Homo sapiens: one gene and its partners. The protein of the gene in region 2 purifies or fractionates together with the protein of the main gene of each other region. This does not show direct contact. Each region holds a gene or a part of one and is shown on either strand. Other genes may lie near its edges.

The links.
Region 1: the proteins of TMEM185A (region 2) and TSPAN6 purify together in Homo sapiens (affinity purification with mass spectrometry; 3 studies listed by BioGRID and IntAct, with this or other methods). This does not show direct contact.
Region 3: the proteins of TMEM185A (region 2) and GAP43 purify together in Homo sapiens (affinity purification with mass spectrometry; 3 studies listed by BioGRID and IntAct, with this or other methods). This does not show direct contact.

What each region holds. Positions count from the first base shown.
Region 1 is NC_000023.11:100,626,598-100,634,569, forward strand, and holds the end of TSPAN6 (tetraspanin-6), read right to left. Parts: intron 7,433-7,972; coding exon 7,334-7,432; intron 6,943-7,333; coding exon 6,808-6,942; intron 5,972-6,807; coding exon 5,888-5,971; intron 4,270-5,887; coding exon 4,201-4,269; 3' UTR 4,162-4,200; intron 3,390-4,161; coding exon of another isoform or gene 3,381-3,389; 3' UTR 511-3,380; downstream 1-510.
Region 2 is NC_000023.11:149,628,667-149,637,277, forward strand, and holds the start of TMEM185A (transmembrane protein 185A), read right to left. Parts: upstream 3,127-8,611; 5' UTR 2,915-3,126; coding exon 2,877-2,914; intron 1-2,876.
Region 3 is NC_000003.12:115,674,747-115,682,718, reverse strand, and holds part of GAP43 (neuromodulin), read right to left. Parts: intron 6,707-7,972; coding exon 6,109-6,706; intron 1-6,108. UniProt on the Homo sapiens protein: This protein is associated with nerve growth. It is a major component of the motile 'growth cones' that form the tips of elongating axons. Plays a role in axonal and dendritic filopodia induction.

The DNA of each region.
Region 1 (7,972 bases), about 49 Mb from region 2:
AACCCTCACAGAATAGTCCAAAGGAACCAAAGTTTACTGTTTCATGAGAAAATGCATATATTGCTTTGTGTCTCTTTTTTATTTTATTTTATTTTATTTTTTTGAGACGGAGTCTTGCTCTGTCACCCAGGCGGGAGTGCAGTGGCGCGATCTCGGCTCACTGCAAACTCCGCCTCCCGGGTTCACGCCATTCTCCTGCCTCAGCCTCCTGAGTAGCTGGGACTACAGGCGCCCGCCACCATACCTGGCTAATTTTTTTGTATTTTTAGTAGAGACGGGGTTTCACCGTATTAGCCAGGATGGTCTCGATCTCCTGACCTCGTGATCCACCTGCCTCAGCCTCCCAAAGTGCTGGGATTACAGGTGTGAGCCACCGCGCCCGGCTCTGTGTCTCATATTTTAACAGGTTTGTTTGGGTGCATCACCAACTTGGATTCTGACAGGAGGTTGAAAACATCAAGTCTCAAAGATTCTTTTGTGAGCTCTGAGGAAAACCAGAAATGGTATTTATACCTTGTATTAGGTATTTATTTCCACAAAAGTTTGATGCTTACAACATAAACCCAACAACCCACCTGGAATAGGCCATGGAAATCTAACAAGCTTTTCACACTTAAGATATACCTAGAGATTTCTGCTTCTCAAAATGTCACCTTGCAGTGAGCAACCTGGTGCCTGGAAATAAGGCAACCCACATCAATTTTGGGACATCAAAAATGAATTATTTTAAACATAGATATATAGTGAAGTAAAATGTAAAATTCTCCAGATTTCTATAAAACAAAACTTAAAAGCTCAAAACCCCCAGCCTGTGCCACTAAGGGAAACTCACTCCCTCTGCCATTAGGATTGTCACCATGGAAATGAGCAGACCTACTGCCTCCAGTGGAAACTGGATCTCTCTCTCCAATCTAGTGATCCCTCTTTCTAACCAGCTAGTCTAATTAGCAAACTATTAAAGACACGTGAACTTTCCTTTGTACCAGTTATCATTAGGTGAAATGTTTCCTCATTACTTTCAGAATTAAGTATACAATTCAGTATGCACAAGCACACATCAGCTATAAGGGCGTTTTCTAACTGGCTATCCAAAATAAACCCATCTTAAAAATAAACAAACCAATCCACCTGACGAGTGATGTGTGGTGTTTTTCCTCTTTCTACATTCTATATTTTAATTTTCTATAATTTTTCCTTTTTAATAATGAGGGAAAACTTTTTTTTTTTTTCTGAGATGCAGGTTCACTCTTATCGCCCAGGCTGGAGTGCAGTGGTGTGATCTCGGCTCACTGCAACCTCTGACTCCTGGATTCAAGTGATTCTCCTGCCTCAGTCTCCCAAGTAGCTGGGATTACAGGTGCTTGCCACCACACCCAGCTAATTTTTGCATTTTTATTAGAGACGGTGTTTTACCATGTTGGCCAGGCTGGTCTAGAACTCCTGACCTCAGGTGATCCGCCCGCCTCAGCCTCTCAAAGTGCTGGGATTACAGATGTGAGCCACCATGGCTGGCTGAGGGAAAACTTTTTTAAAAACTCTAAATATAACCTTAAAACATTCTTCAAAACCACTGCAGTGAAAAATATGTATTTGAAAATTGCTGATAATCCTTTAAATATTTGCTTCTTTAATCTCAGTAGCCAAAAATCTGATTTGCTGTACTTGAGTCACTATTTTTCAACTTAATTTTCTTATCACCTTATCCTATGTCAAAAGTCACACATCAAATGTTCTAATGGAGAATATCATTTTTCTGCAATAACTCCAAGCATTTTAAAACACATACTCAAAATTCATGATCATTTAACTAGTAGTTTTTGCCCAGGTTTTTTTCTAACTGTAACTGACTCCCCCTTACCATCAATTCAAGGACTGTGGCAATCAGACTAGACAGGTTCTACTAATGGATGTATAAAGAGACTCAAAACCAAAGAAATAATTCCCTGACTTCAACTCAAATTTTAGTAATTATTATTTTCCTTATTAATTTCCCTATTATCCTGAAGATACAGGTTACATCCCTCCCTGTACAACTTTTTAATGCAAACTATACAATCAAAAAAGTCTGATCTCTAGGAGAACACTAGTCATATGCTACTTTATAACATGGAATATAATTTTTTTCACAGAGAACAGTTTTTTTTAATATTTGCACTTTAAGATTTTTTTGTTTACATTAAGTTCTGGGATACATGTGCAGAATGTGCAGGTTTGTTACATAGGTATACATGTGCCATGGTGGTTTGCTGCACCTATGGGAACAGTTTTTTTTAAACAAAAACATTTTTTTTAATACAGAGTTAAGGCCGCAGGCTTATATTTCACATCTAAAAACAGTACTCTGAATAGAAATGTAGGGCTTAGCTTTCTCAGTGGAAAACAACAACCATTCCAGCAGATTTTCTACAAGTTAATTTAAACACGATCTTTTTAGAGGAAAGCAGTATTTATTGTATAAGAGTTATACTTATTAATCAAAGGCACAAACGAAAACTAAGACTTAAAGTTGACCATAATATTGACAAGTCATATCAACCTGGTACCAGCTAAATTTAATGAAGATAAGTTCCACTGAATTCCTAAGGAAAATACAACAATTCCGACACCATTTAATAATTAGAAACTTTCAAACAAGAGGGAAAGTATGAACATCATAATAAATGCCTCAATTTGGAGGCAAAGAAATGTAAGTTGTGTGCTGAAACCTGATGTATCACAGAACATCAGTAGTCCCTTCCAGTCGTGGATGCCTTAGACCCAAGGCCTTACACTGTTATCACCATCTGGCAACCCTGATGAGGGATGCCATCTATTGACTGACTGAAATTAAATTACACAATGTGACTCTCTGCCTGTCAGCAGAACAGAGAGTCATAAAACATTTTAACTTCTTGGTGCAAATTATACAATCAAACCAGATAACCTTGACTGGGAAGGAGCCAGTTCAGAGGGGTGAATTTTCTATCACACTACATCAATAGCAAAGTCAGAGGAATCAATTTTCCATCTTGTAACACTACATCAAAATAGCAAATTCACAGTGCCTTCCAAAGGCCCCCTACTAAGAAAAATAACAGTCAAGAGGAACACAGTATTACTTCATTTACAATTTACTAGCTCTTCCAGTGTTTCAGAGGGATACAGGGTTTCAACGATCTAACATGAATGGGATAGAAGGTGGACTTAGAACATAGCAAACATACATCTTGATTGAATCAGCCCACTGCGAGCACGGATCTTGATTGAATCAGCCTATTGGTGTAGTTTTAGGTCTACATACATCTTGATTGAATCAACCTACTGGTGTAGTTTTTTGGTCTATCAGTAAGTAGTGTTGTCAGTTCTCCAGCCAAGCAACTTTCTAATTCACAGGGGGGACCCTAAATGTCCTAAAATTAAAGAAAAAAAGTTAATGTACTTGTTACCCAAATTTCAACATCTGTATTTGCTTACATACATTCTAATCTATTCCTGCTAATGAAGACCTTCCTATGTGTTCCTAGTCAGTGGCTCAAGTAAAATGCAAAGTGTGCCCTAGGGATCAATTCAGCCAACAACAGTTCTCACAGTATTTTACCAGTCAAATACTAACGCCATTGAAACACATGTCTTCCCAAAATCTGGTTCCTTATTAGACCAGATGAGTTTACGGTTTTAACAAAAGCCCACCAAAAACATCTTTTTACCAAGAAAGCCACACTCTCAACAACTGATTAAGATTGTGGTAAATGAAAACTACGAAAAGGACTAAGGAAAATGTCAATATTGGTGAGGAGCAGAGTGCACCTGCCAGGGAACCTCACGAATAAGGTCATTCTTGGGATTCTTTGTTTCTCCTCTCTCCAGGCCAAAACATGTTAAAAAAGGGACCACTTATGATCTTTAGGCTGACATGTGTATGTAAATATATAAACCCACACGGGGAGTCTTCTGTTGCATAACTGTAGAGAGCATGCATAGATAAGCTGTAGCTAAGTCATTACTTTCTGACCATGCCCTGTGTATAGAGACCTAACCTGCCTACACAGGGTTTACATAGCACCAGCTAGATTTAAATATATTACTAGACAAGACGTTCTTGGCAAACTTAGTCCATGCATCACATACACAGGCTAGAATAAATATCAACACTAACAGAGCTGAGGACCAAAATGAACGCACCTTAAAGGTAGAGAGGAATAGGCCCACAGATACATTGGGTTACACTATCTCATACTGGTTATTTGTTATGGCACGAGAGAGGCAGTAGGCGAGAAAGATTCCAATCAGCTAGAAATAAAATAGGAACAAAATTAAATACATACACAAAAGAACTTGAACACCTCAGACTATATTCTCCTCTCACTTGTAATTCGCTTATAATTTTCGTCCTTGAGTTTTTCTAGAGTTATGTTTAATACTCTGCAGCATCTAGATCACATTCAAAGAATCTAAGTGAAGTTTTATTGCCACTGTGACCCAGAATTTCACAACTCTCACCAAAGGAAAATCCAGCAAACTCACTCAAGGAAAATTCAGTCACGAGTTTTGAAGAAACTTTTCTTACTCTCATTTCCCAGAAAAAACAAATACATGGTTTTCAATAAGTATCTTAACAAGTGAAATCTCCATCAACGAGGGCAGAGATTTCCCTGGAAAGATCCACAGCAATGCTACAATAATGAAAATGTTCTAGAATCCCTGTACTGTCCGATATAGTAGGCAGCAGCCACATGGCTACTAAGTATTTCAAATCTCCAGCAAACTGAGGTTTTAATTTTATTTAATAATTTATAACAATTCAAAGGTGGCTAGTGGCTACTGCATTAGCATAGATTTAGATATAGCTTTGCTTACTACTTTAAAAATATATTAAGACGAAACTTGAATTAGTCTTATTTCTAGTGTTTAATATAAAAAAAAACGTTCAGAGCCACAAAACAAACTTCATGCTACAGTGGGAAACACAACTTGGGAAACACAATTTGATCTACAACGTGGAATCAACCCCAAACAACTGGTGCATAAGGAATGTGGGGGTGGCATCATCTAAATTTTAATAGGTTGGAACTTGTATACAACTCATCAGGCAGTTGCAGCCCAGAAAAGATCCTAATAACATTTTAGAATCTTGACTGACCGCAGAGAGAACCAAGGTTCCTATCTAATGTTTTGTTTCATGAGCTATGATACTGGAAAGTTGCCATAACTAAGAGGGCACTGAGTCTTTCCACAGTTAACTGCTTTCAAAAGATATGCACTGCTACAAGTTAATTCTAAATCTTACTTTTTTTCTTCTTTTTTTTAATTATACTTTAAGTTCTGGGATACATGTGCAGAACGTGCAGGTTACATAGGTATACACGTGCCATGGTGGTTTGCTGCACCCATCAACCCATCATCTACATTAGGTATTTCTCCTAAATAAAGTATTTTTATACTGTGACCAGTAACTGAGAGTTTTGTGAAAATGCGACTTCCCTAAAAATGTCCTCACTATCCAGTCCCCTGAAGCAAAAACTTATAAGCCTTAAAAGTGAAAATCTCGCTGCATGCAGTGGCTCACGCCTGTAATCCCAGCACTTTGGGAGGCCGAGGAGGGCGGATCACTTGAGGTCAGGTGTTCAAGATCAGCCTGGCCAACATGGTGAAACCCCAACTCTACTAAAAATACAAAAAAATTAGCCAGGCATGGTGGCGCACACCTGTAATTCTAGCTACTCAGGAGGCTGAGGTGGGAGAATCGCTTGAACCCAGGAAGTGGAGGTTGCAGGGAGCTGAGATGACGCCACTGCATTCCAGCCTGGCAACCGAGCAAGACTCCATCTCAAAAAAAAAAAAGTGAAAATCTTCTAGCTTACACCTACAAGAGGGATGAAATATTTCCTAAGTAACTACAAAAACTTACTTGGAAGCAAGCAACTCCAAAGGAAATTCCTGCAACGACTCCCATTTCTGACTCTATAATGGTCATCACCTTTATAAAACAACCCTAATGGGAGGAAAAAAACAAAGATTAAATACAGCACAAGCAGCCTGTGCTTTTCTTTATGGTAATAAATACTTCGATCATATAACTCTGCAGAAAGATATATTTATGGTAATAAATACTTTGATCATATACCTCTGCAGAAAGATGTATGTATCATAGCCTTTGATTGTCATTTTATTGAAATCTATTCTCTTCCATATGTTCTCAACAGAACAAATAATTATTCCCAATTATTTCCACCTTCTGGATTATATATTTAAAAGTGTTACTTCACTTGAACCCAGGAGTTCAAGGCTCCAGTGAGCTATGATCACAACACTGTACTTCAGACTGGGTGACAGAGAGAGACACTGTCTTTAAAAAAAAATACTAAATAATAAATAAACAAAAAAGTGTTACTTGCTGGCCGTCTGAACTCAATTCTTACCCGCCCTATCTATTTCAGCTTATATTTAAAAATTAAAAACTGGCCAGGTGCAGTGGCTCACGCCTGTAATCCCAGCACTTTGGGAGGCCAAGTCAGGTGGATCACAAGGTCAGGAGATTGAGACCATCCTGGCTAACACAGTGAAACCCCGTCTCTACTAAAAAATACAAAAAATTAGCCAGGCGTGGTGGTGGGCACCTGTAGTTCCAGCTACTCGAGAGGCTGAGGCAGGAGAATGGCGTGAACCTGGAAGGCGGAGCTTGCAGTGAGCCGAGAACGCGCCACTGCACTCCAGCCTGGGCGACAGAGCAAGACTCTATCTCAAAAAAAAAATTAAAAACTGGGTCAATTTTGCATTCAGTTAAGTCTTCAAATATTGCCAAATAGAAAATTTTAAAAGGCACCTTACTTCATTGTTTACTTTGTCTGCATCTCTCTGTGGAGTACAATCTTCAAGTTTACAGCAACTCTTAGGAAATCCTTTTTCTGAGTAATAATTAGTATCTGTCCAATCTCTATAATCGGTGACACCACAACAATGCAACTGAAAAACCCAACAAAAGCATTTACAGTTTATATTACAACTTTGTAGTCAAACATTTAACCTAATATCCTCTATTGCAATTTGTGCTCAAAACATTTACTAATCTCAATGATCTCTCTCCTCAATTGATTCAAGAGATGAGCACTGGGTCCCTGATTAGCACCATGCATGACAGTTTTGTATTGGCCTTACTTTCCTGCTATAGTTGGTACTAACTGTACCTGGACTATGATGTAAGTGGGGAAGGAAGAGAACAGGTGCACATGTGAGGAAAATGAAACACGTCACACTTCTTTCCCCTACAGGTGGATAACATCTAGTAGCCAGACTCTGCTCTTTTCTCTGAGGCAACAGGGAATGTGTTCCCCTCTAGGTGGTGGTTACCACTTACCGTATTTTGGATCTTGTCTACTGCATGGCTTCTATAATCTCCTGTAGAGTTATACTGCTTCAAAGCCTTCTCATAATTATTCTTAAAGCTGTTCTTAATCTATAGCAAAGAAACACAATGTCAGTAAGAAAATCCTCTAGAAAGTTTTTGGTTTCAGGTCAAATAAGTTCTCGAATCTGACCAATGGTCATATCTTTGACAGCAGCAACATGTATAGTAATTAACTTCCATGGTACAGTCCTGTCCTCTAAGGGGTATAGGTTAGCTGAGGGGACTACTAAGCAAAACATTAAAATATATGATGAGAACCACTACAAGTTCAAAGTGCTGTGGGAATATGTATTTATCTGAGTGGCAATGCAGTATTGCTGTATTCTGCACCCTGCTAATTTTTCTCCACTTTAAACTGAGTTCAAATTCGATGCCTATGGAATTTGTAAGCTACAAAACCTTACTTTGGGAGGCTGTGCTACCACTTTATGAGAACTCTCATTAATGAGCCTTTGCTACTCACCGAATGTTATTTGAACAACCCCAAGTTTACCTGTTTTCTAATTCAGTATTAAGCTTTTTTTTTTTGAGATGGAGTCTCGCTCTGCTGCCCAGGCTGCAGTGCAGTGGCGCGATCTCGGCTCACTG
Region 2 (8,611 bases):
TGCCTTGGGACCCACCAAACCATGACAGTGACTATTTCTATGACAAAGACATGCTCTTCAAAGTAAATATAGCCATATTCTGCCTTAGTGCCATGTTCTCTCCCATCTCTCCAAAGCAATGGCTGCACTCTGAAGGTGGGAAGAGTGTGAGAAGAAAGAGAACCAGGCCACAGACCACCAGGAAAGCAGTGATTGAAAGCAGCAGCTCTAGATTTATCTTATAGGCTCTGGAGAGTTATTCAGTTATTTACTCCACAAATATTTATTGAGCCAGGTACTATTCCAAGTATGCAGGCTACGATACTGACACAGTCACGGCCTTGACCCCATGGAGCTTAAAGTTTAGTGGGGGAGGCAGGTATTAATCAAATAAGCATCCAGACAGACACAAGGGTACAAATATGCACTATGATGGAGGAGTAGTAAATACTACAGGAACTGTAGAAACAGGGAGCAGTAAATCTGGTCAGGGAAGTCAGGAATGCTTCCCTTAGCAAGTGCCAAGTGAGGATAAATAGGAGTTCACTAGGTCTGGAGGAGAGGAAAAGAGAGGGAAACATTCCTGGTAAAGAGAACAGTGTGTGACAAGGTCCTGGGGTAGGAGGGAGATGTTGAATTGGTTCAAAAATAGAGGCAGGGAGCAAAGCAGTAGCATCAAGGTTTGAGTCCCCAGCATAAGGTAACTTCCTGTGTACACCCCTCAGTTTTCTTTCTCCTATAGAGAAGGCCTTCCTCAGCATGGAAGGAGACTAAAGCACACTGTCAAAAACTAGGAGTGCTCAGGAGAGGTGAAACACTACCAGCTAAAAAAACAAATCTGATTTACCAATAATACCTGGCCAATGTCCTCTTGAAATATCTGTAAAATTAAGGAACTCACTACCTCTGGCAACAATGAATCAGGAAAATGGCACAGTATAAAAGACCTTTAAACTTTTCAGGTAGAAATACATTTTAATGCAGGTAGAATTAAGAGATTGATGAATATGTTGAGAATTACTATAAATCTGCTTAGATACCAGGTATTTCACTGTAATTTCATATACTAATTTTTTTGGGGGGAAAAGGGCTAAAGGAAAAAACGGTTAAAGGTAGTATCAGTGCAGCACTATTTTGCTTTGGCAACTCCGTTAGCCTGTTTGATCACTTAAGGCAGTTTCTTGAGGCTTCTGAATTCTCTGTCACCTTGCAAACAAGTCACTGTAGCTTTCTATTTGTAAGGCACTTTGTAATCAATCCTTAATTGGCCTCCCTACCCCACTGAGAGATTATACTCATTCTACAGATAAAACAATAGATAAGTGAGTTGCCCAAGGGCACAAAACAATTCAGTTTTTACTTAACTTTCTTATCACCATCTCCAAATAGAAGACATACAGGGCTTGTCCAGCCACAGCACCAACCCTACTACCCTGCAGACCAATCTTAACCCCCTGATGCAGCAGAGGAAGGGACTGCAGTTAGTTCTGTTACCTCCTCTATGCCTTCGAAGCCAACAATGATAATGTCTGCACCGTGTTAGAGACACTGGCACTCCTAACCAGAACATGAACTCAAAGTGGAATAAGAGCACATACAAAGTCACAATGACTCACAAGTTAAAATGTCACCATCCCTAGGGAGACTGCACCCTCAACATACAAATACTCCCCTAAAACTTCCTTTCATCCTCAACAAGCAGCCAAGGCATAGGTCCCCAGAGTTGGCCCCCGCAGTACAGCACTGCACAGTACTGTAAGGCATCTTAAGTGTACAAGCCCTTCTTCACCCCATGCTGAGACCGCCAGCATCTAAAGCACCTAACATAGGTTACAGCACACAAATATTTACTGAGCACGTCTTCCCAACTGGCAAATAAGGGAAACGGATACTCCTTTCGGAGAGTAGTGCATTTAAGAGATCAGTTAGGCCAACTCCTCATTTTACAGAAGGGCCAAAGAAGGGCAGAGAATCACCCAGTTACATATGGCCTCGTCTCCAATCCAAGTCTTTGGGCTCAGTTTAGTTCCACAAACATTTTATATGTGCCTACTATGTGCCAGATACGGTGGGTGGGAGGCGCTGGGGACACTGAGATGAGCAGGAGATGGTCTCAGCTTCAGGGAGCTCACAGCCTGGGGTAAAGAACAGTTACAAAACAGTCGGGCAAGTGCAAGGACAGGCGCTTGAGTGCTTAGCCAGTGTTTTCTCCACACTGTCCACTGGGTGTTCCCCATCTGGAAAAGAAGGACAGCAATATCTACTTCCTGCAAATAAACTTGTAGTGAAGACTGATGAGAAAATGAGTATGGAAAATGATCAGGCTCACCCAGAAATGCATTATATAAGGTATTGCCATACCCCGACACTGACTCCAAGGATTCAACAGTGTTTCAGGTATCCGTTCAACAAAGAAGCAAACAAGAGAGGGATGGGCATAAACCCAAGGAAAACCCCAAGGACTGCGAGGAACTGGAGGAAACAGCTGGGGTGGGGGTAGGGGTGTTGGGTCGAGTGAGACGGCCCTGACGCGGAGAATGGAGGGCCCGCAGCGGCGCAGAAGAGGATGGAACCGAGACGAAGAAGTTGGGACACCAATGAGGGACAGCAAGCAGAAAAGAATGGGGTTCCCTTGGGGCAGGACGGGGCTCGCGGCCGGGCCCTTCCGGCCGTGGCCGGGCAGGGGCTGAAAGCACCGGGCACGGGAGGAGGAAGCGGGCGGGCGCCGAGGCCGACTGTTTTGCCTGGGGACCGCTTGCACCCGCAGGGAGGCTCGGGCAGGCGCCCGGGTCCTCGGGCTGCAGCATCTCGCCCGCCGTGCCTCCCCGGAGCCGAACACCAGCCCGCGCCCGAGCCCGCAGCGCGGACTCCCGGGGGCGCCAACGACGCCGCCTCACCTCGGGTTGAAGTCCTGGAAGAGGCCCCTCAGGTTCATGGCGGAGAACTTCACCGCGGCGTCCTCCTCCTCCTCCCCCGCACCCCGTGCTGCACAGCCTGCGCCTTACAGCGGGTTCATGGCGCCAGCGCCAGCCGCGTCCACGCTGCTGCTCCCGCTACTGCTGCCGTCCCCGCTGCCGTCGCCGTCGCCGTCGCCGCCGCCGCCGCCGCCGCCGCCGCCGCCGCCGCCGCCGCCGCCCGGAGAAACCTGAGCCACCGCCCCCTGCCCCTCCTTCCGGGCTTCCGTACGAGGGCCGCGCATGCGTCCGGAGCCCCGCCCAGAGCGCTCCTCGCTGGGAGGTCCCCATCCTTGTGTCCGCACGCGACCGGCGGAGGAGATGGCAGGGGGATGGAGGCTGGGAGTGAGCAGGGCCCCGAGGAAGGGGATGCTGACGGGCTGAAGGCCTGCAGGGAGGGAGCGCGCCGCCCGGGAGTCTGGCGGGCAGATCTTGGCAGACACCTGTCACCTTGGCCCGCGCTACCTTCTGGAGATTTTCCCCAGTGACGACTGAGCCCTGGGAGTAGTGACAATGAGTGAGACGTTGCATTTTTGGCGATGTCATCCCAGGCTTCACCTGTCACATCTGTCAACGACTCCAAAGTTTGGGTCCCAACTTCCCTTCCAATTCCCAAGCCAGCGTGTCCAGATATGCTGGCTATTCCCTACTCAAGTTACCTAGCACCAAAGTCACTTCCCGTGCCAACCGCCTTCCCCTCCTGGGTTCCCTTTTTCCCTTAGCAGCAGGCCTATTCGTACGCAGGGGGGTATTCAAGCAGGAGACGTGGAAATCATCCTCATTTTTCTAACCCAGTTCAGAGCCTCCTTGGATCCTGTCTAAACTTTGTGGTCACTTCACACCTGACCTCTGCCTCCACTCCAGGCTGCCCTACTTACAAGTACCAGGTTCATCTTCCTTGGGCAAGTCAACATCTTTGAGTCTCAGTTTTTCTCCTCCGCAGAATGGAAATGATAAAAACCTCTTTTCTAAGCGTGTTAGGAAGATTCAGTGAGATCGTGTGCATAACACACTGCCTGGTACATGCTAGGTGTACAAAGAATGCTGTTGCTATCTGGTACTCTTTCAGGTGTCAACCTCCTCAAGGATTTTGTTTGCTTTTGGAATCCAAGAGCAGGACAAGCTCATAGCAGGTGACCTAGTTTACCATCTTCACTTTGGGCAGATTTAAGTTTTCATGAGCACAACAATGCCTTAAACATTAGTCTACTATCATTATGGATAATAGTCATCCTTTGTTGCAATAGCAGAGTTTCACAAATGACAATTTTATACTGTTTAGCCCCAAGGGCAGCTTGAGAGAATCACAATTGCGATAGTCATACTTAGTCTTGATGTATCACCTTTCTTCTGAGAACGTAAAAACATATCATAAGTGGTAATTAAGCTTCCCAACACCCACTGGGAAATGGATATTATTATATGAGCTGATTTTAAGGTTGAGTAATCCAAATCAAGTTTTCATCTGCTGAAGCACCAGGACCCTGTCCCAGACTTTTTCACCCATCTTCCTTTCCCATCCTCTGGGTAAAGTCCAATGTGTAGCCCAGAGGAGGTTCTCAATGAACACTCAAATACAGACGAGGAATTAAGGCGCAGAGAAGCTTGTATAACAGGCCCTGAGCGAGCCAGCAAGTAAGGGTGAAGGAGCACAGATGAAACTCAGGGTCTAGCTGAACCTGCAGCCCATACTGTTAGAAAGAGGTGCTTGCCAGTGGTCAGATTGGACAGCACCATCTTCATTACCAGTGACCGTGCCCCAAGCAGGCATGAGAAGATGGTCTGCCAGTTCAGACACTTGAATAACAGGCATCACTGCCCTTTCAAGAGCTTCATAGATAGAGACCAGGCAGGCTCCTCAGAGTCCAGAATCTTGAGGGCAGACGCTACTTTAATGAGATCCCAGGGAGTCTGGGAGCTGAACCACTGCTCTGCAGGCCCACAAGTTCAATTTTAGCAGTTCTTCCAGAGTTGACCAGGCCCTGGAAGCTATCTAGCAAAGGCAACAGGACACTGATGCACAAATTACTTGTCAGTGTGTTCTTTTGCTCTGACAAGGTAAATTGCCAAGAGGAACATATGAACCTGTCTGTGAGGAAATACAGGAAGAACTGGACTTTCCCAAGGCTTCACATCCCCAGTCTTCAAGAGGTGGATTACCTGGACTGATTCTGGAAGCCCAACCCTTTATGCTACTGGTGCTCTCATGGGGAAAAAAAAGCCAGAAACCAGATGGCCATCTGGTCCTCTCTCCAGCAAGTGCAAAAGACCCTACTGACAACCTGCTGCTCACTTCAGAGCCCTCACTCAGTGTCCCACCCTAGATGGAGGTCCAAAGCCTCAATGACCTGTGTAGACAGACCCACAAGTGATCCTGACATTAAAGAAAGACCCTGGGTCATATGCAGGCACCAGGAGTGCTGGGAAGCTTAATTACCACTTATTAAATGTTTCTACATTCTCAGAAGAAAGGTGATACATCAAGGCTAAGTATGACTAGTGGAGAAGATGACACCCACATCTTCTCCACTAGCAGAGTTTGACTTTATCTTTTCCTTGACTTGCCAAAAAATTCCAGGGCTATCTTGCTAGGGGCTCCCAACATTCTTCACTCAAAGGAAAGAAATGGCTCTGGATTGAAAAAGTATGACCCCCAAATAAGCCAGACAGCATATTCTTGGTGACTTTGGGGTGGGCTTAGGTTACAGTGTTCCAGAAGAATCAGTGTATATCTGACCATGGTTTTAAGGACTAACTTGGATTTGTACCACCCTTCTGATAAGCTGGTGGCTTGTCCAATTCAATATTCACATTGGCTTCAATGTGGTGATATAGGATGCCTCTCCTCTGAAGAGCAAGGCACTGGTGAAGAGAATCCTGGTGAATTTAGACACTTGGACTGGGGAGACCTGGCATAGGGGAAGAAAATGGCCGTGGAACCGCCCTCCACACACCACCAAGGCTCCTTCCCTGGCTGCAGCAGTAGAATGGAGAGAGTGTGGAATTAGTAGATTTGAACTCAACACCAGTTTCACCCTTGCTCCAGTGGAGGGAGGGCCAGCTGGGATCCAGTCCCGTGCAAGGCCTATGGGACTATAAAGAGCTTCTCGGAGGTCAGATTGACAAGTTCTTTAGCCAGGAAACATGGAGGTGCCAGCCTGCAAGGCTTTCTTAGCCTGGAATTCCTCACCCTAGGTTCCCTAAAGTCCACACTTTGAATGCCACCAATTAGAGAATTGCTGAAGATGCTGGGAATTAGTCCACCTGCAGAATGCAATCTCCTGCTTCCTGACAGAACCCTTTGTTTCAGGCAACTTTAGCCTAACTTGGATACACATCTGAGATCTCCCTGGGAGGTGGGTGGGTCTGGAGTCTAGACAGGGATTTGATTAAATACGGGGCTAGATTTAGGGGCTTGGAGAACTGGAGGAGGAGATTGCAGGGAGGCAACTGAAGGGACCACAGAGGTAGTAGCTGTAGTTCTGCTTGGACTTGCAGCAACCCCTATGGCCTTCCAGAGCCCAGAAGGAGCCACCTCCTCAGGGAGTCTTCCCTCAGGTAGGCAAATTACAGTTACTGAGAGAGAAGAGGGAGGGAGGACAGTCCCAAGGCCCCAGTGGACCTCCTGTCACCCAGGGTAGCCCTGGGAGTGGGTGGTTTATCATCCCTCATGGAGCAAGCTTTCTGCTAAAGGAAGCAGGGGCCATTTCCTGTTGGAAGGCAGAATGGGGAGCCTTTGCCTGGGCCAGCAAACCACCACGGTATCCCTGTGCTTCTCCTCTGGACCTCTCCTGATGCCAGGGTTTCCAGGAAGCCTTCCCGGCTGTGCCACACTCCTCCAGTGTGCTGTGTATGCAAAGCCCAGGTCAAGTGTGTGTGGCCAAGCACACGGGGCAGACAAAAAGGCCCATGCTTGCCAAAGGTCACCAACCAGCTGCCCACATGATTCCTTTTTCTCCTTGTTCCCAACCTGCTCTCATTCCTGAATCTCCACTCAATGCTTGTCTTTCTCCCTTTCTGTTTCCACACTGTATTTCTGACACATTCCTCTGGGGCCCTCTGCCCTAACTAATCAAATGTGCTCTTCCTCATCTTGCCTTCCCCTAATGGATCCTTTCATCTTGGGTAGCCTGTAACCTTCACTCCTTTAGTTGCATTCATCTGACATATGTCTTCCAGAGTGTCTGCTTTGTGCCGGGCACTGTGGAAGGCACTGGGAACACACAGATATGAATAATGAAAACACAGCATTGTGCACGATAAGCATTGGGGATGAGGGAACCGCTGAGCTGAAAAAATAACATTGTAAGGTAGGAAGAGAGGAAATGAGGTTCCAGGCAGAGTAAACAACAGTTGTAAAAACACAGAAGTCAGTGAATGGAGGCAGGTGCACCATTTTGGAGAACAATATTGTCTGCAACCATCCTCCCTTCCCTTCCCACCACCCCACTCTGCCTACAGGCAGCTGTGCGTGTGCTCTCAGCTCTCTGTGCTTGGAGGAGTCAGTTTTGGAGTCCCATGATGCTTCCCACTATGCCCCTGTATTCTTGGATCCTGGCATGCAGTAGGTGCTCAGGCAATGGTCATGAAATGAATGCTGATGTTGGACAGTCACAGGGCACAAACAAAAAAGCAGTTCTTCCTCATCCCTTGCCTCAAACCAGGCAACTTGTGTCTGCAGGAAAAATGACCCTTTCTTTCCAAGTTTCTAATAGCTGCAGACATTATGTGGGTACCCACACTCCCACTTTCCTACAAATCATTGACATGTTGAGGTTTTTTGTGTCTTATTATAAAACAACTTATACCATGCTTGTACAGTTCTAAGATGTGAGATGAACCATCTATTTAATAACAGATTTTCAAGGGTAAAACCCTGCATGAATCAATGTACTTATGCATCTTAAGATCTGTACTCTTTCAGAAATATTACCATGTACAGGAGAAGGTGCATCTTAGATGTTCAGCAGTAATTGCTCCTTTTTATTCATCATAAGAAGGCCTACTTTGGGCCATCTTATAATCGTCGTTATGAGTTGAATTGTACCCTCCAAAATATACCCTTCAATATGCTGAAGTCCTAATCCCCAATACCTGTGAAGGTGACCTCACTGGTAATAGGGACTTTGCAGCTGTAATAAAGTTAAAATGAGGTCATTGGAGTGAGCCCTTAATCCAATATGACTAATGTCCTTGTAAGAAAAGAGAAAATGAAACACAGACCCAGAGAGAAGACAGCCATGTGAAACTGAAGGCAGAGACTGGAGTGATGCTGCCACAAGCCAAGGAACACCTGGGGCTACCAGAAGCTGGAATAGGCAAGGAAAGATCTTCGCCTAGAGCCTTCAGAGGGAGCACAACCCTGCCAACACCTTGATATTAGGCACTGAACCTCCAGAACTGAGAGAGAATTAATTGGTACTGTTTTATACCGCACACTTTGTGGTATAACACTTCGGTATGGCAGTCCCAGGAAACTAGCGCAATCTTACACCAATGCTCCGAAGTTGTGCTATGTTTTGGTTTGGCTGTGTCCCCACCCAAATCTCATCTTGAATTGTAGTTCCCCATATCCCCACCTGTCATGGGAGGGACCTAGTGAGAGTTAATTGAATCATGGGGGCAGGTACCGTCATGCTGTTCTTGGGATATTGAGTAAATTCTCACAAGATCTGATG
Region 3 (7,972 bases), on a different chromosome or scaffold from region 2:
CTAAAAATACAAAAATTAGCCAGGCATGGTGGCAGGTGCCTGTAATCCCAGCCACTAGGGAGGTTGAGGCAGGAGAATCACTAGAACCCAGGAGTCAGAGGTTACAGTGAGCTGAGATCATGCCACTGTACTCCAGCCTGAGCAACAGAGCGAGACTCTGTCTCAAAAAAGAGTTAATGATTGCTCTTTAATTTGTCTCTTCTATTAAGTTCTTTAATATTTTAGTTATAAAGGTACCAGATCCTTTGGAAATGCACTTGCCAAAGGGGGGTAGACCTAAGCAAGAATATAAAAAAGATACTGATTCTGATAAGCTAAACTTAGGGTAGCAATTGCCTACAATAAATAAAATGACTTTCATCTGATTGAGATATGAAAATTTCCATTTCTAGTTTTCAGATCCTCCTGGCATAACTGATGTATTTGATGGAGTCAGTAATACATCTGTTAAGAACAATCATTTTCAGCTGATCTTTATAGCTCTCTCAGGTCTAATAAAACAGTACTTGGAGCATTTTTGAAATAAGAATCTAAGACTCAGAAACAGTTTAATATCCCTAATAATTCTGGGGTGATAGGGCTGTGAGGGAATTATGATCAGGAATTATAGTAGTTACTAGACACCCATCTGTAAATGCTATCCCTAATAATTCCCAGACAAGAGTCTGGAATATCCAATTATCCAAAGAAGAGAGATGTTCTTATATTATAACACATTGTTGGGGTCCTTAGACATTCCTCTCCTCTTTGTTTCTTCCAGAATAGCACTTGGATAAGTGTCAGGGTTCAGCATGTGACCTCTCAGACTCTCAGGGTTTGGCTTCTGGTTCAACATTGCTAGCTGTCAACAATGATTAAGTCCCATAGTCTCCCTAAAGCTAAGATTTCTCCTTGTAAAAAGGGAAGGGAAAATTACACTACTACATTACTACCACAGAGTGGTTATGATGATTAAATGGAACAATCCCCACATAGCACTCAGCACAGGACCTGGCAGTTAATAAATGCTCATTAAGTGCTACCTATTATTAGACTTTTATATGTTAACTCTTGAAAGAAAACCTTAAAAACCAACTATCGTAGTCCCTTTTCCTAAGGATGAGATGAATGAGGTCCAGAGAAGCAATAACTTGCCTAAAATCTGGTTGGTAGAAATACTGAGACTAGAACCCTGGTCTCTTTATTTCAGTTCAAAGATCTTTTCCCTGCATTATATTACAAGGCAGGTAGGACAGAGAATATCCTAGTAAGGTCCTGGTTGGTATTTCCCAAAAGCATCAGATCACAACAACAGCTAAGATAAAAAAGAAAATGCAGAAACTGAGACAAAACATAACACCTTAATAGAGAGAAAGAACTGTAGGGCTACAGTTAAGGTGAGGATTTAGAGTTCAATCAGTTTGATCCTCATTTTGTCACTGGCTGTATTTGTGGCCAGAATATCCATTTACTTTGTCCCTATTCTTGGAATATAAAAATAGAAAGAAAAATATTATCAAATGACATTGGGCTGTTGTCAAGAAAAGCCAATAAAAATGATTACTCTAGCAATATAAAAGTGCTCCATAAAAGCTTAATAATCAACAGTATTTAAGAGGTATACCACTGAGTATCTGACAGGGTGCCCATGTTTTATAAACAGCATTTATGGACTTCCACAACCAAAATTTTCATTCTTTGTGAGTTGTGTATAAATTTAGGAAGTGGTTGAAACCACATTTCAAATCAAAGCCGCTCACGAGGCACCCTGCCAAATAAGTGTAAATATCCTTGGAAAATCTCACATCTAACACACAGCTTGGTAGAAGTGGACCTATCTTTTGGAAAGCTGAAAAATAGATGGTTACCTTGGGTCTTAGGGAAAATATTGTTCTGGGAAACATAAATAATTTTTTAAATTCAGAAATATGAGCTGGGTATTTCATTTTCTTATACACAATTATCATTCTAGAAATTCTAAATTTTGCATCTATTCTTTTCGTTAATAATTTGAGTATCAGGACATACATTATATGCAACGTTTTTATAGTAAGCAGCAGACTGCATCTTAGCCCCTGAAGCACTGCCTCATTCATATTTTGTCCAAAGTGCATTGGCATAGGGAAGTGCCCTGTACCTAACTGCAGAATTTAATTGAGATTATGAATATGATTGTTTTCAATGTCATTCCCTGAATTTCATACTACCCCCATACCAAGTAAGAATTCATTAAGGTCAAAAGAGTACATCTTGTTTTTGTTTTGGTTTGGTTTACTTTTTCTGAGACAGGGTCTCACTCTGTCACCCAGGCTGGAGTACAATGGCACACAATAATGGCTCACTGCAGCCTTGACCTCCCGGGCTCAGGTGATCTTCCTGCCTCAACCTCCAGAGTGGCTGGGACCTCAGGCACACACCACCACACTCTGCTAATTATTTATTATTTGTAGAGATGGGGTCTCCTTCTGTTGCCCAGGCTGGTCTCAAACTCCTGGACTCAAGTCCTCCTGCCTCGGTCTCCCAAAGTGCTGGGATTACAGGCATGAGCCACCGCACCTGGACAAAAAATCATATCTTATTCATCTTTGTGACTCCAATACCTAGCACAGAAGAAAGTTAATATAAAGGGAAGGGAAAAAGAAAGGAAGAATAGAAAAGAAGGAGACAGAATGGGAAGGAAGGAGGGAGGAAGGAAGGATAAAAAAGAGGAGGAAGAGAAGCAGGGAGACACTAAGTTAATTTTTCTATTCAGGGAATGGCAATAGGAAACTCCTCCCTCTTTTCTTGATCATTACTGATGGCATCAATTTGCAAGATGTACTGAGACCATGAAAATAAAATGCAGCCAAGATCAACATACAGAACATTTAAAGTCACTCAGAGCTACACTTCCAACTAGCATCAGTCAAAGACCCTGTGGCAGCCACCCAATCAATATCACTGATTGATAGCCCTCTGGATAGGTTACCTTGGTTGTACCACATCACTGAATATGACCACAGCAGAGTCCTCTACTGGGGAAAATCAATAGGCTACCATGGAGAAGAGGAGACGTAAGAGAGAATTCCTTCATTGAGAGCCAATGAGCACAGTGACACTGCTCAGCAGGAGACCCCAAGGATATAATCACTAAAGGGGGCTTCAAAGTTCTCTACTCATGACTGAATGGGGCAGTGTCCCACAGATGTTTTGAACACTCCTCTTCCTCTAAAGGAATCATTGTCAGAGGTGCGCTGAAATGTTTTGGTCCCAGGCACGTAAAAAGCTGGGCAGGCAGCGTGGCAAACTAGGGAGAGGTGGACATACTTGGAGAATTTAAAACAATGACAATAACCAACCAACTTCAAAGATCAAAATACAAATGACATCCCCCCATAACAAACAGGTTGGTAGTAAATAGTAAAAGAAGTAAAATAAATAACATTTATAGTTCCCCCAACATTTCCATAGGTATTAAAGTAATAATCATATCTAAAATTTTTAAGCCTGATATTCACAGAAATTATTTTCTTAGATTTTCTCTTTGTACCTATTTTTCCCCTTAACCCTGTTGCACCCTCTTAGATTGTCTGTCCACGCCCCTCCAGGCAGCTGTAGAATCCTAAAGCAACCCATGGTAGCCACCCATTTCCGAACAGTACAGCCCAGTGGAAGATGCTGCTACTTTAACCCAGGTTAAAATGAAATACAGTGGAAGGCAGAGGAAATGCAGTACAGGGCACCTGGGAATTTGGACCTGATATGATGTGATAGATCTCCTTGTCACCTCTACCTTCTGTGATCCCATGAGATTCATCACAGCGGAGTAATTTGTGCTTGTCACATAAGAGCAGGCAAGGCTACTAGATACCTCAACCCAGAAAGAAACGACAGGCAGCATTTCTGAATCTAACCAAGAGGACAGTACCTACCCAACTCTAAGAAACACTGTAAATTGCCCTTTGTGATTACCTTCAAGTTGAACTTCACCTATTGTTTCAATCACCTTTGAATGCCCATGATAAAGTCTGATTAATTAAGATATTTTTCTGTCAGAATCTGTAACATTTAAGGCAGAGAAGAGTGCTGTTTGCTTTCACTGACCAGACACATTTTTAATCAAATAAATGAATAGAATAAGCAAATATGCAAGAGAAATATATAAATGAGTGAACAAATTATTATCTATAATTTAAATTTCATCAATTTATATTCAATATTTGACATTTGTTGACAACTTACTACATAAAATATTTCATTAATTCATTTGCAGTTAGTTATCATAACCTGAAACATAATAAAACTTAATTTCTTTTAAAATATATTATATATTAGACTTCCTACTGATTCAAAAAATCCTTCTATCAACCCAAATCATAAGCATATACCTAAAATCACATCATTTCTCTGTTTCCCACAACTTTAGAAATCCCAGTTAAAAAATATGGTCTGTGCCATGTCAGATATGTTCTGTATTTAAAAGCATGATTAATTTCTAAGATGTATGAAAATGACACATTAAGTAACTTGTGGATATGCAAAGTGATTTCCAGACATCATACCTGAGGCTCAAACCTTAAATCTAAAGAAAAGTAGTTAAGTTTTGCTTTGCTGAGTAAATTAAAACCCACACCCCACTTTTTATCACATGCCTTACCTTTTCCAGGGAAAAATTCCCATCTTCTAAACCTCAATGTCTGGCCCCTGGGACAGTTGTGTGTTAGAATAAAGATTCAAAATGAAAAGAAGCATACGATTTATCCAGAGCTGGAATATGCCAATAACAATGTTAATTAATATAATCTGGCATCATATTCATAGAATTTTAGGGATACGATGAAAGAAGTAGACCTAAAATATCTAGAATAGTCACCTACCATATTGTAGTATCTGATTTTGGGGAAATGTATATCAAGGTAAAAGTCCAGTCATTACTTTCTCAATCTGATGGTCAGATGCCAAAACATTCCTCAGACCACTCTCATGGAGTAGGTTTTCTCCCAAGGAGCACACGGTGGTTCAGTCCGTATTTGGACCCTTGGATGACAAACATCATTGGTTAAACCGAGGCGCTTCTAAAGGAGTAAACCCAATCTTTTAAATGGACACAGAAGAAACTTTATCTTTGAGGATCTTTGGGGCTGGAAAGTATTTATCGGTCATATTAGACTAGAGAAAGATCATGGAAACTGTTGGCCTCCTTTACCACTGTGGATGTGTTGGGGTGAGGGAAGGATCTAGTCTCCAGGGACGAAACTCTGTTGAATTTATCTTGCTCTGGGAATATTCTATTCCAATTCTGCACAATTGAGCAGTAATAGTGAAAACCCTCCAACTTTCAAGTTACAGCTCCAAAATGAAGAGAATCCAGTACCTTTTTGTAATCATAGGAACCCTCAATTATTTATGCATATTGTAGAAAGTCGTGTCTTCAATAATAAAATGATTATTTATGTTTGACTTCACAACATATTCTGTATTTGGGGTTTTTCTTTTGTTTTTGGCAACATCGACAGACTTATTTTCCTAATTATGTTTGACCCCAATTAATGTTACAATTAACATTCTCTGAGCATACCCACATATACACACACTACTCACCAACCGATGGTGGAGAGAATGCCCAGAAACATAATGTGAGATAGGGAAGGGTGGTCTGAGATTATACTTTTGCTGCCAACAATTCACACACTATATAATCTGGATCAAGAAGAGGATGGCTGTATTTATACCAGGCATTTTCTAGAGCCAAATAATCACATTAGCTAATTCCCATCCATAAAATATATGTAGCCTCAGTAATTACTTATTAAACTAAGTCTATCAGCACACAGAATACTTTTTTAAAGCAGATTTATCTAGTTTGACTGCATATATCAATCCAATTAAGGTAATTGCCAGATCTTTCTAGTACTGGCTGCTACATAGACCTGCCTGAGTCCTCTCTGGTAGTCCTCTCTGGAGATATTTGGGAATGTAACCTTAGCTCTTAGTCCTGCCACTTTGGGAAATTAAGCACAGCTTCCCTTGATTTCTGGAAAACATCTTCTAGACTTTTTCCTCTCCCTCAATGACCCAGGTGGCCTGGTCTTCCGAATAGCAACTCCCTTCCCCATCCACCCATTGCATCTGACCCTCGCGGTTGCTCACCTATGTTCTCTTCAGCTTGGCTGCTCTCCCCAGTCTCCGTTGGAGGCTGGGCTGTTGCCTTGGCAGCAGCATCCTCTGCGGCAGGGGTGGTGGCAGCAGCAGCAGTGACAGCAGCAGGCACATCGGCTTGTTTAGGCTCCTCCTTGGCTGGGGCATCTTCAGCCTTGGAGGACGGCGAGTTATCAGTGGAAGCTTTAGTGGCACTTTCTGTCTCAGCTGAGCCGGCCTTCTCCTCTGAGGATGCAGGAGCCTGGGGGGCTGCCTGCTCTGTGGCAGCATCACCCTCCCCCTTCTTCTCCTCGGAAGGAGTTTCTCCTGCTTTGCCGGGCTCATCAGGCTTGGAGCCAGTGGCTGGGGCTGCTTCGGCAGTAGTGGTGCCTTCTCCCTTCTTCTCCACCCCATCGGCAACAGGGGCTTCATCCTTCTTATTAGCTTCAGCCTCAGCAGCTTGGACATCATCCTTCTTCTCTCCTTTGAGCTTTTTCCTTGTTATGTGTCCACGGAAGCTAGCCTGAATTTTGGTTGCGGCCTTATGAGCTTTATCTTCTGGTTTGATACCATCTTGTTCAATCTTTTGGTCGTCATCATTTTTTTCAACCTTTGTCGAGAAAAGAAGGGAAAAGAGAGGGCTTCAATGACATTCTTCTCCTTTAAATCTCAGCATTCAACAAGTATTTATTAAGTGATTTATTTTGTGCCAGGCACTGTTTTTGGAGTTAAGAATTCAACAGTACCCTGGAAGTTCAAATCAAACCTCATCTTTCTCCCACAGTATTGTATGGGAAAAGTAATGTCTTTCGGACCTTCCAGAATCACTGGCCATTTTTTTTTTTTTTTTTTTTTTTTTTTTTTGAGATAGAGTCTCAGTCTGTCACCCAGGCTGGAGTACAATGGCGTGGTCTCAGCTCACGGCAACCTCCGCCTCCCAGGTTCAAGCAATTCTCCTGCCTTGACCTCCCAAATAGCTGGGATTACAGGCATGTGCCACTACACTCGACTAAGTTTTGTATTTTGTAGAGACGGGGTTTCATCATGTTGTTCAGGCTGGTCTCAAACTCCTGACCTCAGTGATCCGCCCACCTCCACCTCCCAAAGTGCTGGAATTACAGGCGTGAGCCACCGCATCTGGCCACTGGCATTATTTTCTACGTATTTTCTTTCCCCGGCTCAATGTTGCTCCATGTCAAACTTAAACCAGCCTTTTTTTTAGAAGTACTTTGACAACTCAAATCACATTTACAAGCTGGGTGCAGTGGTTCACACTTGTAATTCAAGCACCTTGAGAAGTGAAGGCAGGAGGCACTTGAGCATAGGAGTTCGAGACCATCCCTGGCAACATAGTGAGACCCCATCTCTACAGAAAATTTTAAAATTAGATGGGTGTAGTGGCATGCACCAGTGGTCCTGGCTACTCAGGAGGCTGAGGAAGGAGGCTTACTTGAGCCTGCGAGGTCGAGGCTGCAGTGAGCTGTTGTTGTGTCACTGCACTTCAGCCTTGGTAACAGATTGAGACCCTGTCTCAAAAAAGCAAGCAAACCAGAAACAAAAGCAAAAAATAAATCACATTCACCCCAGGTTTTTATTAAAGAGCTCTGAAAGATAGAGGGTTTACAGGGTTTTTGAGAAGGACTTTGTATAAAACTTAATGGTTTAAAAAAATATTTTGCAAAAGTCTACTTTCCCCCAAGTTTTAAGCCTGATAAGGAAATTAATAAATTCAAGACAAAGAGTATAGTCAAAGTTTAAACCATAAATCCCATCAGGATTTTATGCAAAATGTAAATGAGTTCCAGGTCTTTAAGGGATTTGTTCAGAATGTGACAACTTAACAATGCTGGTCACAAAATAATGTCTAACTTTCTCT